Linked DNA regions of Homo sapiens: region 2 is linked to region 1. Evidence: fine-mapped expression QTL. A gene starts in region 1. The other region holds a variant in brackets. All regions are shown on one strand. Distances are from middle to middle.

Region 1 (8,325 bases):
GCTCCAGGCTTCAGTGCCTCCCAAGGTACCTCCTCACTCTCTCCTTCTCGCCACCTTTGCCTCCCGTTCCCTGCCTGCTCCCTGCAATTCTCTCCCTGGGGAAGTGCGGGGAAGGGAATGTCATGGGTGGTGGATTGAAAGGGGTAGGTGGGGTCAGTAGAGGGGGAACACAGACGGTGGAGGAGGTGGAGAAGGGACACAAAAAGAGGAGGGGAAGTTGGAGAGGGAGCAGAGAGCCAAGAACAAAACACAGGGGCCGGAGAGGCAGCAGAGACAGAGATACAGACAGGATGCAGAGAAGATGCAGACGGAGGAAGCCCAGAGACTCAGAACACAGCACCAGGGAGGAGAGCGAGGTGGGGAGCGGGGCGGGGCGGGCGTCCCAGGGCGCCAGGGCAAGACCCTCACCCCATTCCCAGCACACAAAGCCAGTGAGGCCAACGCCGAGGGTACTCTCAGAGACCAGAGATTTAAAAGGCACGGCTGGGCCGACAGAGCCCATGGCAGACAGAGGGACATGGAGAGACAGGGAGAGAGACACACAGAGACAGAGGGAGAGACAGAGAGAGATGGAGAGACAGAGAGAGATGGAGAGACAGAGAGAGAGGGAGGGACAGAGAGAGAAATGGAGAGACAGAGAGAGACAGAGACAGAGAGAAATGGAGAGACAGAGAGATGGTGAGACAGACAGAAATGGAGAGACAGACCCCAAGAGGGAGAGACAGAGAGAGATGGAGAGAGAGGGAGAGACAGAGAGAGAGGGAGAGAGAGGGAGAGACAGAAAGAGAGAGACAGAGAGAAATGGAGAGACAGAGAGGGAGAGATAGAGATGAAGAGACAGAGAAGGAGAGACACAGAGAGAAATGGAGAGACAGAGAGCAAGAGGGAGAGACAGATGGAGAGAGAGGTAGAGACAGAGAGATGGAGAGACAGAGAAAGAAATGGAGAGACAGAGAGGGAGAGACAGAGATGAAGAGACAGAGAGAGAAGGAGAGACAGAGAGAGATAGAGAGACAGAGATGGAGAGACAGAGAGAGATGGAGAGACAGAGAGATGGAGAGACAGAGAGAGAGGGAGAGACAGAGATGGAGAGACAGAGAGAGAGGGAGCAACAGAGAGATGAAGAGACACAGAGAGGGAGAGACAGAGGGAGAGACAGAGTGGAGAGACAGAGAGAGAGATGGAGAGGCAGAGAGGGAGAGACAGAGAGAGATGAGAGACAGAGAGGGAGAGACAGACGGGCAGAGACAGAGAGATACAGTTATAGAGAGACACAGAGACAGAGTCAGAACTGGAAAGAGACTCAGTAAGAGAGAGACAGAGACAGAAGGAGAGAAGGAGAGAGGGTGAGGAAAAGGAGGATGAGGAGGAGGACGGACCGGAGACAGGACCCAGAGGCACAGCGAGAAACTGGCAGAGGAAAGCAGATTCCAACAAAAAAGACGGAGAGGGCGAGGAGAGATAGAAAGGGAAGGAAAAGAGGGAGAGAGGGGTCTCGGTGGGAGCCGCAGCCTGTGCCCCGCCCCCCGCCCGGGTCAGGCCGGGTCCTTCCCGCCACCGCTGAGCCGTGGCTAATGGTATGATTGCTTGGTGGGGCGGGAGGGGAAGGGGGCGGCAGGCATTTGTCAGGGCCGGTGACGAATGAGCCACAGGAGTCTGGGCTCGGGTGATGGATGGCGTGGCCAGCGGGCGGAGGGGCGGGCGCAGGGGTGGGCGCCCCCACCAAGATAAATGTTTCCTTCTCCTGGAGCTGGGCCAGGCAGCGGGAGGACGGGAAGGGGGCGATGTATTTATGAAGGGCCCGGGTGGAGGAGAGGGGAGAGAGCCAGGGAGACAGAAGCCCAGGGAGGATACGGTGGGGGGGACAGGGAGGCGGAGAGAGGGAGAGGAAGGAGGGAGAAGAGACAGAGGCCCCTGGAGAGAGAGACCGAGAAAGATGGAGAGAAAGAGAGATAAGAAAGATGAGGCAGAGAAGACATCCAGACAAAGAGACACAGAGATACAAGAAAAAAAAAAAAAGCCAGGAGACAGACAGACAGACACAGCCCAGGTGACAGACAGACAGACATAGCCCAGGCGGAGATGGAGACAGAGACGGCCTGTCTTTTAGGGTCCCTTCTTCCCCCACCCTCCTGAGCAGAGACACAGATTCTCAGAGAGAGCCTGGAATGAGGAGGAGGAAGCAAACCTGGGCCCCCAGAAGGAGAGAGACAGACACAGAGCGGTTGATAAAGAGGGGAAACCGAGGCAGGAGGCTAGCAGGCCCGAGAGAGAGGACAGGAGGAACCCAAGGTGGATCCTCGTTCATTCGGTCTGCTCCTGTAGGCTTTCAGAGGGGATCCTGGGGACCACTGCGGATCCCCGGGGGACGTGGCTGCCTGGTGGGCATAGCCCCAGTGGTCGGTGCTCAGGTTGGGGCACTGAAGGGCCAGTCCGCTGAGAGATCGCCCAGCCCGTGCTGGGGAGACCCATGAGGTCCCCCAGATCTACTCATAGAGGGCTCCACGCTTCCCGTCTGTAAAACAGGTGCAGGACAGGGCTAGAGGGCGGAGACCCCTGCAGACTGGGAGCTGGGGTCACTCTGATGCCACCCAGGGAGCCACTCAGCCGGGCAGGGAAGACGCTTCCAGACACTGTCACAGGGAGGCCCAAGCACACCCTCGAAGAGCCGACAGGCAGCCGCGACGCAGTGACACAGGCACCCCCGCTCCAGCACCAGGCCTGGCCGCCACCTGCTCCCTCCCCCTGGGAACAGAAGGGTCCCAGGACTATTTAAGGGAGACAGCCAGGAAGAGAGAGAGAGAGAGAGAGAGAGAGAGAGAGAGTGTGTGTGTGTGTGTGTGTGTGTGTGTGTGAGAGAGAGAGAGAGAGAGCGAGAGACAGAGACGGACAGACAGACGGATGGACAGACAGAGGGAAAGACTGGAGGAAGAGCCTCAGAAAGCCGGAGCCTCCCCCCTGCTCCCTCCGTCCCCCGCCGGCATCCTCCATCCTCCCCCAATCAATTTCTCTCCCACACACTTATTTCTCCCTTCCCAACAGCTCGTCTCTTTCTTTAATTAGAAAGATTTATGCTTCAGAGTCCAAGCCCCCTGCTCTTGTTTTGGGGGTGGCAGGGACGACTCCAGGGTCTCTATTGGAGCTCCTGTCCCCCACTCCCTCCCCCTCCTGTCTGTCTCACTCTGTCTGCACCTCTCTCTCTCTCTCCTCCCACCCGCGTCTGTCTCTGTCTCTCTCTCTCTCTGAATCACACCGTCACTGGAGTTACCTCCCTCCCCACTCCAGTTAGGCCCCATCCCCATCCCAGGTGCCCCCTCCCTCCCTTCCTGCTCTGTCCACGCCCCCCACCACTGGCCGTCAGATGAGGCCGCACTTGCTCCTCTAGGTTTCAGAATCAGCCTGGGCTAAGGGGACCTTAGCATGCACCACCCCCCAAAAAAGCAAATAGAGCCAGAGACTCCTAACCCTTGCATCCCTCACCCCAAGTCTTGGCTGAGGGTGAGGTGGGGGTGGAGCAGACCAAAGGGCCTTGTGTCTTTAATTAAAAAGTGATTTAAATTAATTTTCTGCTCCAAAACCCCTATCTGGGGTGCGCCGGCCTTGAGGAAAGGCAAGGCCTCCAGACCCTTCCCCTCGGACTGCCTTAAACGGCCAGCCTCACCGCAGGACAGCCACGGGGGCAGAGCCCGCCGGCATGGGGACCCCCAGACTCAGCCAAGACCCTGAGTCCTGGCACCCTCTAGCTTAACTGTTTCTCCGTTATCCACAGCCCACCCCCGCCGCCCCCAGCGCACTGCCCATCCTGCAGAGGGGGAATCGAGCCTCAGAGAGGGGAGAGCCTACGGTGGGACCAGACTCCAGATTCCCACGTGACCCCTGGAGATGGCCAGGGAGGGGGTCCGTGGTGTGTCCAGGGGGCTCGGAGAACAGAGAGCCAGAGGAGAGAAAGGACGGGAGAAGCGGAGACAGAGAGAGACAAGGAGAGAGAGACTGGGAAAGAGGGAGACTGAGAAACCCGGAGCAGGAACCCCAGCCCTGGGTAGGAGAGGAGGGGCCTGGGGGCACCAGGGCCGCGGTCTCTTCCTCTCCTCCCCCCACAGCCTGCCCCTCCCCGACTCCCACCGGAAGTGCTGCTGCTGCCCTAACCCCAATCCCTCGTGCTGTAGCTCTGCAGGCTCACTCTGGCTCATCCCCTATCCCGCTCCTTGGTGGTTCTGTTTAATTTCCACAAGACAAGGGAGAGACCGGGAACGGGGAGCGCGGCTGCCAGCACCCCTGAGCCGCCGCCGGACCCTCCGTCGCCCCGGGCCGCCCCCCGCCCCCTGCGGTCCCCGGTGTGTCCGTCTCGGGACGGTTCGATTCCCTCCAGAGCCGGGGAAGGGACGGGGGGGGCCCAGAGGAGGGGGCCTCGGGCGCCCCGCCTGCGCCTGCTGCCCCCGCCCCGGCGGCGATGCGCTCCTGGCCGTGACCCCCGCTGGGGGCGGGGGCCGGGGTCCATGCGCGGAGTCCCCACCCGGCCCGGCGCCTGCCGCTGACGGCGGCGGGGGTGGGGGGGCGCGCGCCTGGCCTCCTGCCCACCCCCTGGCGTCAACACCGCGGGCCGTCAGGGGCTGCGGCCCCGGGCTGCGCCCTCCCCCGCGGCCAGGCTCTGGAGGGACCCAGGAGCTGCCGCCGGCCTCAGCCCATGGCCCGGAGGGTAGGTCTCGGGGCGGGGACCCCGCGTCCCGGCCGCTTCCGCACCCCCTGTCCCTGCATCCCCCACTCTCCGGCGCTGGCCCCCATTAGCCCATCCGTCCTCTACACCACCTCGCTCTCTCTCTGCCCCTCCCTCCGCCCCTGGGTCTCCCAGTCCCTGTGTGCCCCCTCTCTGCCCCCAAGTGTCTCTTCCTGGCCCTCGGCCTCGCCTCCTCCCCATCGTTTAGCTTCTCCTTCTCCCTGCCCCTCTGTCCCCCTCTGTCTGCCCCACTCTCCTCCTCCTTTCTGCCTCTCTGTCCCCCTCTCTCTGTCCCTGGTCTCCCCCCTCTTTCTGCCTCTCTATCCCCCTCTCTCTGCCCTCCCCCACCCGCAGTCTCTCTCCTCTGTTCCTGGGCTTCCTCCTCCATCTCAGCCGCCCGCACCTCACCGTCCCCCCTTTTTTCTGCTCTCCTCCGTCCTTCCCTTCGCTCTACTTTTGTTCCAAGCCGCCCCTGCCTCTCCAGGGCTAGGAGTGGGACAGGGGTGGGAGAGGTGGTCTCACCAGGCTGCTGGCCCCACGGAGCCTGTCTCCCTGGGGATGGGAACGGGGATAGAAGACAGGGGAGGAGGCGCGCGCCCGTTTTGGGGGTTCCGGGTAGGCTGTGAGGACCGCTTTTGGTGAGAGTGCCTTGAGCAGCGGGGAGCAGTTGGATTCAACTTCAGGGCACAGGAGAAGTTAGGAGAAGAGGGAGAGGGAAAGAGTGGGACACACAGAACCAGGGTGCCCAGCCAGGCGAGGGTCCGAGGCAGGAACGTTCTAGCCTCTTCCCGTGCGAGTCCTGCTGCCTCTTTGAGCCTCCGTGTCTTCATCACTGAGGAAGGGATTTGACCTGATGAGAGGAAGGTGCCCCTGGCTTCCCAGGTGCATGGTTCTGTGACGACAGGACGCGGTCGTCCTACCCCATAATGGTGTTTCTCTTGGGTGCGCAATCGTGTCTGTATGGTGGTGCGGAGTGACCCTCTCCGGCAACAAGTGCTCACAGCATGAGCCAGGCCCTGTGCTAAATGCCTCATTCATTCATTCATCCATGTGCCAAATGTCTCAATCATGCATTCATTCTTGTGCCTGGTGTTGGGCTGTGTGCATGTGTGTGTGCATGTGTGTGTGGGGGGGGGGATTTGGGTGTGACTGACACATGAGTGTGCACGTGGGTTGGTGTGTATGGCTGTGTCTACATGTGTGGTAGATTCACGTGGCGAGTGGAGTGTGACATGTTGTTGAGACTTACTCTGATGCGCTTATCTGCCAACTGTGAAATGAAATAGAAGACAGGGAGGCTTCGTATGTGTACTTTGTGTACAACAATGCGCGGTTCCTACAGGAGGTGTCCATGGATCTCCCTCTCTGTCTGTCTCTCTCTCTGTCTCTGTCACTGTCTTCTCACGCCACTTTCTCCATCTCTTTTCCCTCCCAGCCAGACCCTGCCGTCTCTCCCTCTGGGTCCTCCTGCCCACATGTCAGGAATCTCTGCCTGGACGGGGTCCTCACTCCCCACCGAGGCAGCTCCAGGGGACCTGGAGGGCTTCAAGCTTGGGGGCTCAGACACCTGGGGACCACAGGCAGGTTTCTGGGACACAGAAGGGCATCTCCTGGGTTCCAGGATAGAGAAGCTCCTCAGCCGAGTCTCGGGGTGCTGACCCCTCCCTGGGGCTCCGCCCTTCTCTTCTCACCTTCCCCCAGTATGATGAGCTGCCGCACTACCCAGGCATCGTGGATGGCCCCGCAGCCCTGGCTAGCTTCCCAGAGACAGTGCCCGCAGTACCAGGGCCCTATGGCCCGCACCGGCCTCCCCAGCCCCTGCCCCCAGGCTTGGACAGCGACGGCCTGAAGAGGGAGAAGGATGAGATCTATGGGTGAGTGGGGCCGGGTCTCAGGCTCCTGTCTCTCTCTCTCTGTCTTTCTGCTTCTTTGCTCCCTGGGTCTGCTTCTGTCTCTCTCTGTGTACGAGTCTCTGTCTCCTTCCCTCTCTGGGTCTCTTGTCCCCTCCCCAGCTGTTCTGCATCTTGGCAGCCCCTCCATCCACCTCCCAGCCTCTCCCTCAACCTCTCTCCTTTCCTGCCTCCCCAGACACCCGCTCTTCCCCCTCTTGGCCCTGGTCTTTGAGAAATGTGAACTGGCTACATGCTCTCCCCGTGACGGGGCCGGAGCTGGGCTGGGGACACCCCCTGGAGGTGACGTCTGCTCCTCTGATTCCTTCAACGAGGACATCGCTGCCTTTGCCAAGCAGGTGGGCACCTCCCACCCACCACACACCGAGTCAGAGAGCCAGCGAGGAGGGGTGGGTGGAAGGCGGGACATCCCCCTGCCGGCCTCTCTCTTCCCTCCCAGGTTCGCTCTGAGAGGCCCCTCTTCTCCTCCAACCCAGAACTGGACAATCTGGTGAGACCCGAGCCCTCCCCCACACCCCCTCCTCCAATGGGTCTCCTTCCCTGACGCCCCATCCCTGGGGTTGGTGGGGGGGGTGCAGAGAGAAGGCCACCTGGTCCATGTCCCCAAACCGTCATGATTGTTGCCCACGTGCCGTGTGGTACAGCCTAGAGTCTGAGAACGGGACCCATGGCCCGAGTTCAAATCCCAGCTCTGCCACTCACCAGCTCTGTGACCCAGGGCAAGTCACTCTGCATCTCCGTGCCTTGGTGTCCCGTCTGTGAAGTGTGGCTGGTAGTAATGTCTGTCTTGGAGGGCTGCTGTGGGGGTTTAATGAGTGAATGCGATTCAAGTGCGTGGAACAGCACCTGGCACAGAATAGGGCTCAAAAAGTGTCTGATGTTCCATCCGTCAGAAGATCAGCACCTATGCCAAAGTGAGCGCAGGGACTGCTGCCCAAGGAGAGGAGGCTGGGTGCGGCAGCTCACGCCTGTAATGCCAGCACTTTGGGAGGCCAAGGCCAGGAGATAGCTTGAGGCCAGGGATCGAGACCAGCCTGGGCAACGTAGCGAGACCCCACCTCTACAAAAACATTTAATTAGCGGGGTGTGGTGGCATGCACCTGTGGTCTCAGCTACTTTGGAGGCTGAGGCGGGAGGATCGCTTGAGCCCCAAGAGGTCGAGGCTGTAGTGACCCTTGATCAGCTCCACTGCATACCAGCCCAGGCAACAGGGCAAGACCCTGTCTCTCATAGAGAGCTAGAGAAAGAGAAAGAAAGAAAGAAAAAGAGGGCCGGGTGCGGTGGCTCATGCTTGTAATCCCAGCACTTTGGGAGGCTGAGGCAAGCAGATCACCTGAGGTCAGGAGTTCGAGACCAGCCTGACCAAATGATGAAACCCTGTCTCTACTAAAAATACAAAAATTAGCTGGGCACAGTGGTGCACGCCTGTAGTCCCAGCTACTCAGGAGGCTGAGGCAGGAGAATCGCTTGAACCTGGGAGGCAGAGGTTGCAGTGAGCCAAGATCACACCACTGCATTCCAGCCTGGGCAACAGAGCAAGACTCCATATCAAAAAAAAAAAAAAAAAAGAGAGAGAGAGAGAAGAAAGGAGGGAGGAATACCCAGCTTCTCCCATCCTTTGCTCCCCAAGCTCTTGCCAGGGCTTCCTATTGGCCAAACCCTTTGGCAAGTGTTCTGGGAAATGTAGCTTGCAGGTGGGTG
Region 2 (8,325 bases), 100 kb after region 1:
AGAGGGAAACTATCCAGGTCAGGGGCAGCCATGGAAGAGACCGGAGCAGGTGGGAGAAGGCCAGGAGGCCAGGAGGCTGGTGTTGTCTTCTTGAGGAGGGAGCTGCCGGGAGCCCACCCCCAGGAGCTGAAGGCGGCTGGGGCTCAGGTCCTTCCCCGTGACCTCGATGCCTGGGGAATCTGCACTAATGAGCACAAGTTACAGAGAGGATCTTGTCCCAGGTACCAACGTCTACTCTCAAGCAGGCACAGACACCACTCACAGCCACTTCTGCAAGCTCAAGAGACTGCAGCATCTGTCCATCGAGACACTCAGGCAATTTTTTGTTTGTTTGTTTGTTTGTTTGGAGACAGGGTCTTGCTCTGTCACCCAAGCTGGAGTGCAGCATCACAACTCACTGCAGCCTCAAACTCCTATGCTCAAGCGATCCTCCAGCCTCGGCATCCCGAGTAGCTGGGACCACAGGCACTACCAACCACACCGGCTAATTTTTTCGTTAAAAAAAAAAATTTTTTTTTTTCTGAGAGAGTCTCACTCTGTCGCCCAGGCTAGAGTGCCGAGCCACAATCATAGCTCACTGCAACCTCTGCCTCCCGGGTTCAAGTGATTCTCATGCCTTAGCTTCCTGAGTACCTGGGATTACAGACGTGCATCATCATGTCCGGCTAATTTTTGTGTTTTTAGTAGAGATGGGGTTTCGCCATGTTGGCCAAGCTGATTTCGAACTCCTGGCTTTGTGATCTGCCCAGCTCAGCCTCCCAAAGTGCTGGGATTTCAAGCATGAGCCCCCATGCTCAGACTAATTTTTTTGAAGATGGAGCCTCACTATGTTGCCCAGGCTGGCCTCCCAAAGTGCTGGGATTACAGACATAAGCCTCATTGTTCTTAATATAACATATGATTGTATTATATTATTAAGTATTTCATCTATTTCTTTTTACTTATTTAATGTGGCTACTAGAAAACAAAGATATACATGTGGCCCACATCATATTTCTGTTGGACGACATTGGGTCTGTACACTAGTTCTAAATTTAATTTTTTTTTTTTTTTTTGAGACAGAGTCTCACTCTAGGCTGGAGTGCAGTGGCATGATCTTGGCTCACTGCAACCTCCACCTCCCGGGTTCAAGCAATTCTCCTGCCTCAGCCTCCTAAGTAGCTTAGATTACAGGTGTGCACCAACACACCAGCTAATTTTGGTATTTTTAGTAGAGACGGGGTTTCACCATGTTGGCCAGGCTGGTCTCAAACTCCTGACCTCAGGTGATCTGCCTGCCTCAGCCTCCCAAAGTGCTGGGATTACAGGCATGAGCCACCACAGCTGGCTGGTCTGCACGCTATTTCTAGATAATCCATGCACATGCACACTACACAATCAAAGCAGAAATATTGTGATATGGTTTGGCTGTCTCCCCACCCAAATCTCAATTTGAATTGTATCTCTCAGAATTCCCATGTGTTGTGGGAGGGACCCAGGGGGAGATAATTGAATCATGGGGTCCGGTCTTTCCCTTGCTATTCTTGTGATAGTTAATAAGTCTCACAAGATCTGATGGGTTTCACAGTAGTTTCCACTTTTGCTTCTTCCTCATTTTCTCTTGCCACTACCATGTAAGTAGTGCCTTTGCCTCCTGCCATGACTGTGAGACCTCCCCAGCAATGTGGAACTGTAAGTCCAATTAAATCTCTTTTTTCTTCCCAGTCTTGGGTATGTCTTTATCAGCAGTGTGAAAATCGACTAATACCTACTGCAAAGTCAATTATTCACTAGAAATAACACAACATTTCAATATTCATTTTTATTTTCCTCATTAAAGTCATGTATACTTTTTTTTTAAGCTCAAAACAGGTTACATACTATATGATTCCATTGAATAACATTCTTGAAATGACAACATTATAGAAATGGAGAGTGGATTCCTGGTTGCCAGGGGTTAGGGACACGGCTGGGGTGTGGGGGTGGAGGGAAGTGGGCATCCTGGGGATCCCTGTGGTGATGAGAATGTCCTGTATCTTCACTGTATCAATGTCAATATCCTGGTTATGAGACTACATTGTAGTTTTGCAAGATGTTGCCATTGGGGGAGGCTGGGTGAAGGGTACACAAGATCCCTCTGTATCATTACTTACAATTGTGTTGAGTTTGCAATGATCTCAAAATAGAAAGCATAATTTAAAAACAAAGTACAAACAAAACTGCAGGTTTTTTAGGTGTTTTTGTTTTTGTTTTTGCTTTGCTTTTGAGACAGAGCCTCCCTCGGTCACCCAGGCTAGAGTGCAGTGGTGCGATCATGGCTCACCACAACCTCCACCTCCAAGTTCGAGCAATTCTCCCACCTCAGCCTCCCAAGTAGCTGGGATTACAGGCACCCACTACCATGCCCAGTTAATTTTTTGTATTTTTAGTACAGACGGGGTTTCACCATGCTGGCCAGCCTGGTCTGGAACTCTTGACCTCAGGTGATCCACCCACCTTAGCCTCCCAAAGTTCTGGGATTACAGGCGTGAGCCACTGCTCTCAGCCTAATTTTCTTTTTTAAATTAACTCACTTACAAGAGCTTAGATAACTCCATGGACTTCTGTTTTGTCCCAAAGAACTTTTGAGATTCCAGTTACATATTTTCCAACTTGCCATAAAATAAATACATTTTTTTTAAGCGAGAATCTTTCTACTTGTCTGTATTCTGAGTTCCCTGTTCACACCTATTGCCATATGGAAATATCCCAGATACACGGGTTTCTGTTTGTTTTTCAAAAGCCTGGGATGGAAAGATGGTGTGTGTGGGGGGGGTGGGGGGTGGGAGGGTGCTCCCTAGAAGGAAGTGTTCACCTTGCAAATGAGGAAGGATGAGAAGAGTCCCGCTGGAAAAGGAGGGACAAGTCTGGGAAAGACAGGCAACATGGAGGAGAGTTAGTTAGCTAAGGTAACACCATCCCACGAAAAGTGAAGTGAAAACAAGAGGGAGAATGGCCGGGAAGGAAGGGGACATCGGGCCACAGTGGCCCATGAGGCTGTCGCCTACACTGCCTGGGTCTTCTGGGCCATAGTGTCCACTGTGGAGCGCGTGAATGACTTGCTCTCCCTAACCACGGACTCTTCAGTCAACACGTTCCGGAGGAGGCTGGGGAGGGATTTCCGCAGTCGGCCCTGGAAGCCCTGGCCGGCCACCACGTAGATGATGGGGTTGATGCAGCAGTTGATGTAGGCAAAGGAGACACACAGGGAGTCCAGCTTCTTCAGCAGCAGGAAGGTGGGTGACGATGGCTCCAGGAAGGACATCATTATCCCCGTCACCTGGTAGGGCAACCAGAAGATAAAGAAACTGGCCACCACTGCCACCACCACCTTGAGTGTCTTGGTGGACCGCGTGGCCCTGCGGCTCCACGTCCGGAGCAGGATGAAAGTGTAACAAATCGTGAGCGTGAGTAGAGGCCACAGGAAGCCCAGGACCAGCCGGACGATGGCCACGGCTCGCTCCCGCCGTTTGTCGTGGCTGTAGTCCACGCCACACAACACCTTTGGTGGAAAGTACTCCTCCCGGACCACCCGGTACAGGAAGGAGGGTATGGTCAGCAGCAGGGCTAAACCCCAAGCCACGGCACAGGCGATCCAGGCCAAGCCAGCCCCTCGGAAGTTCTGGCACCAGATGGGTTTAAACACCAGCAGAAAGCGGTCGGCGCTGATGGTGGCCAGGAGCAGGATGCTGGCGTACATGTTGAGCAGGATGAGGGAGGGCAGGATGCTGCAGGCGGCCCCGCCAAAGGGCCAGTGGTGATGCTGTACAATGGACGTGAACAAGATGGGCAGCGCCAGGCAGGAGAGGAAGTCGGCTACCGCCAAGTTGAGGAACCAGATGGCATTGATGGTCCGCTTGGCCTCGAATGCCGTCACCCAGACCACCAGGGCATTGCCCAGCACTCCCACCAGGAAGACGACTGCAAAGATGACCAAGGCCAGGATGTCTGGAACACGCAGCGTGTTAGAAGTTTTATCCACAGGGGTGTTGAGGTCCAGGGTATCCTTGTCATCATAGTGCCCATAATCAGGGGTGGTATAATTGAAGGAGTCCTAAGGGGAATCGGAGAGAGCAGAGAGGATGAGTCTGCAGACATGTGCCCGGGTAGGGGGCATCCTGGCTCAGGCATGTGGCTTTTCCCCTGTGTGGCTTTTTCTCACTAGGAAATGGGGATGCTGAGGGCTGAGAGTCAACTAGGGTGTCACACCACTTATTAAAATATTGAGGCAGATGC[C/T]GTAGCTCACGCCTGTCATCCCAGCACTTTGGGAGGCCGAGGCGGGCGGACTGCTTGAGCCCAGGAGTTTGAGAATAGCCTGGGCAACATGGCAAAACCCCGTCTCTACTGAAAATACAAAAATTAGCCAGGCGTGGTTGCACTTGCCTGTAGTCCCAGCTACTCCGGAGGCTGAGGTAGGAGGATCACCTGACCCCAGGAGGCAGAGGTTAGAGTGAGCCGAGATCATACCATTGCACTCCAGCTTAGGTGACAGAGTGAGACCCTGTCTCAAAAAAAAAAAAAAAAAAAAAATGAAATGATTCCATGCTAGTTGGACCCCTTGCCAGTCTGCCACCTCTCCCCTCAGTCCCATCCTGCGAAGCCCCTGGGCTTCCCCACGATCCAGCAGCCTAACGTCAAAGTCTAGCCCTACTGGCCGGGCACGGTGGCTCACACCTGTAATCCAGCACTTTGGGAGGCCGAGGTGGGTGGATCACGAGGTCAGGAGTTGAAGATCAGCCTGACCAATGTAGTGAAACCCCGCCTCTACTAAAAATACAAAAATTAGCCAGGCGTGGTAGTGGGCGCCTGTAATCCCAGCTACTTGGGAGGCTGAGGCAGAAGACTTGCTTGAACCCAGGAGGCAGAGGTTGCAGTGAGCCGAAACAGCCCCATTGCACTCCAGCCTGGGTAACAGAGTGAGACTCCATCTAAAAAAAAAAAAAAAAAAAAAAATAGAACAAAAAGGTCCTGATCACTTCTTCCCAGACAGAGCTGAAGGAAGCTGTCATGCACCCAAGAAAGAAAGGCTGCAGTCCATGGCAGCTGGACTGGAGAAAGCCTTGTAGGTGAAATCTGTGTCCAGAGGCACCAGACACTGCAGTAAAGCACCCATCAGGGCACTGAGTGATCACCCGAAAGCAGCCAGTACTTACTGAGCACCTACTATGCATGCGGCATGGAATTTGCTCTTTCCATCCTGACCACAACCTACAAGGAGGTTCTGTTAATATGCCCATTTCAGGCCAGGTGTGGTGGTGCACACCTATAACCCAAGCACTTTGGGAAGCCAAGGTGGGCAGATCACCTGAGGTCAGGGGTTCGAGACCAGCCTGGCCAACATGGTGAAACCCCGTCTCTACTAAAAATACAAAAATTAGCCAGGCGTGGTGGCGGGCACCTGTAATCCCAGCTACTCGGGAGGCTGAGGCAGGAGAATCACTTGAACCTGGGAGGTGGAAGTTGCAATGAGCTGAGATAGCGACACTGCACTCCAGCCTGGGCGACAGAGTGAGACTCCACCTCAAAAAAAAAAAAGAAAGAAAAAAAAATGCCCATTTCGCTGATGAAGAAGCACGAGGCACCAGAAGGTGAAGTAGGCTGTTCCAGGTCACTCAGAGAGGATGTGAACCCATACGGGCTGGAATGCAAACCAGACAGGCTGCCCCTGACCATTTCCAAGAGGTGAGTTTTGTGACCTATGGAGCTAGCCCAGTCCTGAAGGCCACTTTGACACCAACCCAGAGAAAAGGGGACAGCAAGAAATAGAAATCATTCTGGAAATACTGAGAGCTGTATTTGCAGCTCTAAATATTTGAATTTGCAGATGGAGTTTTGTACATTTTTTTTTTTTTTTTGAGATGGAGTCTCACTCTGTCGCCACGCTGGACTGCAGTGGCACGATCTCGGGTCACTGCAACCTCTGCCTCCCAGGTTCAAGCGATTCTCCTGCCTCAGCCTCCTGAGTAGCTGGGACTAAAGGCACCTGCCACCACACCCTGCTAATTTTTGTATTTTTAGTAGAGACAGGGTTCCACCATGTTGGTCAGGCTGGTCTCGAACTCCTGACCTCGTGATCTGCCTGCCTTGGCCTCCCAAAATGCTGGGATTACAGGCATGAGCCACCACACCCGGCCTGGTTTTTCTACCTTTAAAACACTCACCTCAAAGATTAAATAAGATGAAAAATGCCTAAGCACCTAGCACAGCGCCTGACACAGAGAAGAGGACAAGAAGTGGCAGCCATTGGTATTATTATTTGTCAGTTATTGAAGAGCTCAGATCCACATCCCTGAACCACTATATATATATATATATTTTTTTTTTTTTGAGACTGAGTCTCACTCTGTCACCCAGGCTGTAGCTCAGGGGTGTGATCTTGGCTCACTGCAGCCTTGACTTCTCAGGCTCAAGTGATCCTCTTGCCTCAGCCTCCCAAGCAGCTGGGACTACAGGTGCATACTACTGTGCCCAGCTAATTTTTAATGTTTTTTTAAAGAGGAGGGTCTCACTGTATTGCCCAGGCTGGTCTCGAACTCCTGGGTTCAAGCAATCCTCCGGCCTTGGTCTCCCAAAGTGCTGGGATTACAGGCATGAACCACCACGCCCAGCCCCGTTTTATATTTTTTTTTTTTTTTTTTTTTTGAGACGGGGTCTTGATCTGTCACCCAGGCTTATGTGCAGTGGTGCAATCATGGATCACTGTCACCCCAGCCCCTCTGGCTCAAGCAATCCTCCTGCCTCAGCCTCTTGAGTAGCTAGGACTACAATTGTGCACCACCACACCCAGCTAATTTTTGTATTTTTTTTCTTTTTTTTTTTTGGTAGAGATGGGTCTCGCTTTGTTGCACAGGCTGGTCTCAAACTCCTAACTTCAAGCAACCCTCCTGCCTTGAACTCCCAAAGTGCTGAGATTACAGATGTAAGCCACCATGCCTGGATAGTTTTGTTTTTTTTTTTCTAGTTCCCTTACATTGCACCTGCCCAAGGTTAGCCAGGCTATGGGCAGTGGGCATTTACTGGTGGAATCATATCCATGAGTAAATTATTGAAAGATAAGATGTCAGTATCTGCTAATGAGTGAATGAAAAAGGTGGGGTTTAGCCACGTGGTGGAATATTACTCAGCTATGAAAAGGAAGTGCTGACACATGCTGCAATGTGGATGAATCTTGAAAACATGATGCTAAGTGAAAGAAGCCAGTCACAAAAGGCCATTAAAAATACAAAAATTAGCCAGAGTGTTGGCGCGCACCTGTAATCCCAGCTACTCCAGAGACTGAGGCAGGAGAATCACTTGAACCTGGGAGGCGGAGGTTGCAGTAAGCTGAGATCATGCCAATGCACTCCAGCCTTGACTGAGCAAGACTCTGTCTCAAAAAAAAAAAAAGGTGATAGAAAGATGGATGGATATAAATAAACGGATGGATAGATAACGAATGGGTGAATGAGTGGATGCATGGATGATGGACAGATAGATGACTGATGGACAGACAATGGATACATGGAGATATGATTGAGAGATAGATGATAGATAGATAGATGATAGATACATAGATAATGGGCTGGGCATGGTGGCTCATGCCTGTAATCACTTGAGGCCAGAAGATCAAGACCAGCCTGGCCAACATAGTGAAACCCCATCTCCACTAAAAGTACAAAAAAATTAGCTGGGCCCAGTGGTGTGTGCCTGTAGTCCCAGCTACTTGGGAGGCTGAGGCAGGAGAATCGCTTGAACCTGGGAGGTGGAGGTTGCAGTGAGTCAAGATTGCGCCACTGCCCTCCAGCCTGGGCAACAGAACAAGACTCTGTCTAAAAAAAAAAAATAGCTAGATAACGGATGGATGGATGGATGGATGGATGGATGAATCGATGGACAGATGGATGGATGGATGGATGGATAATGGAGAGACAGATACAGTAAATTTGGAGAGTCTAGGTAAAATGTATATGTATATGAGCCTGTTCCATTCTTGTCATTTTTCCGTAAGTTTGAAAATATTTCCAAATAGAAGGTTAACATTTTTAAAAATATTTTCACTGGTAAACAGCCCCTGCCCTCAGCCACCCACTTCTTCTATTGCCCGCTCCCAGCACCCTAAGTTCCTGTTTCCTACTCTGGGACACCCCCACTCCAGGTCGCCATGTTCATGTCACTAAAGAGTTAATGCTAGGTGCAGCAGGAGGCCCTAGACCCTGCCCAGGGGACCTCTGCACTTTAGCACATTGTTAAATATTTTGAATGTTCCCTTTGGCTGTGACGCATGAAGGTAAATTTTGCCTCTGCTGGTTTCGCAAGCTCCCAGCAATC

What was found.
Region 2: its variant is fine-mapped to the expression of MEIS3 in whole blood (TOPMed, PIP 0.93).

Annotation. Positions count from the first base shown.
Region 1 is chr19:47,415,441-47,423,765 of GRCh38, reverse strand. MEIS3 (Meis homeobox 3) reads left to right here and starts at 4,239. Exons shown (of 13, transcript NM_001301059.2): 1 at 4,239-4,696; 2 at 6,416-6,588; 3 at 6,803-6,962; 4 at 7,064-7,114. The coding sequence starts at 4,685. RefSeq lists enhancers at 4,159-5,152, 5,153-6,145.
Region 2 is chr19:47,315,528-47,323,852 of GRCh38, reverse strand. It overlaps C5AR1 (complement C5a receptor 1), which reads right to left. Exons shown (of 2, transcript NM_001736.4): 2 at 1,787-4,072. The coding sequence ends at 3,023. Among named protein-coding and RNA genes, the nearest start is that of C5AR1, 9.8 kb to the right of the region's middle. RefSeq lists an enhancer at 8,187-8,325. The variant C/T (reference allele first, on the strand shown) is at 4,255.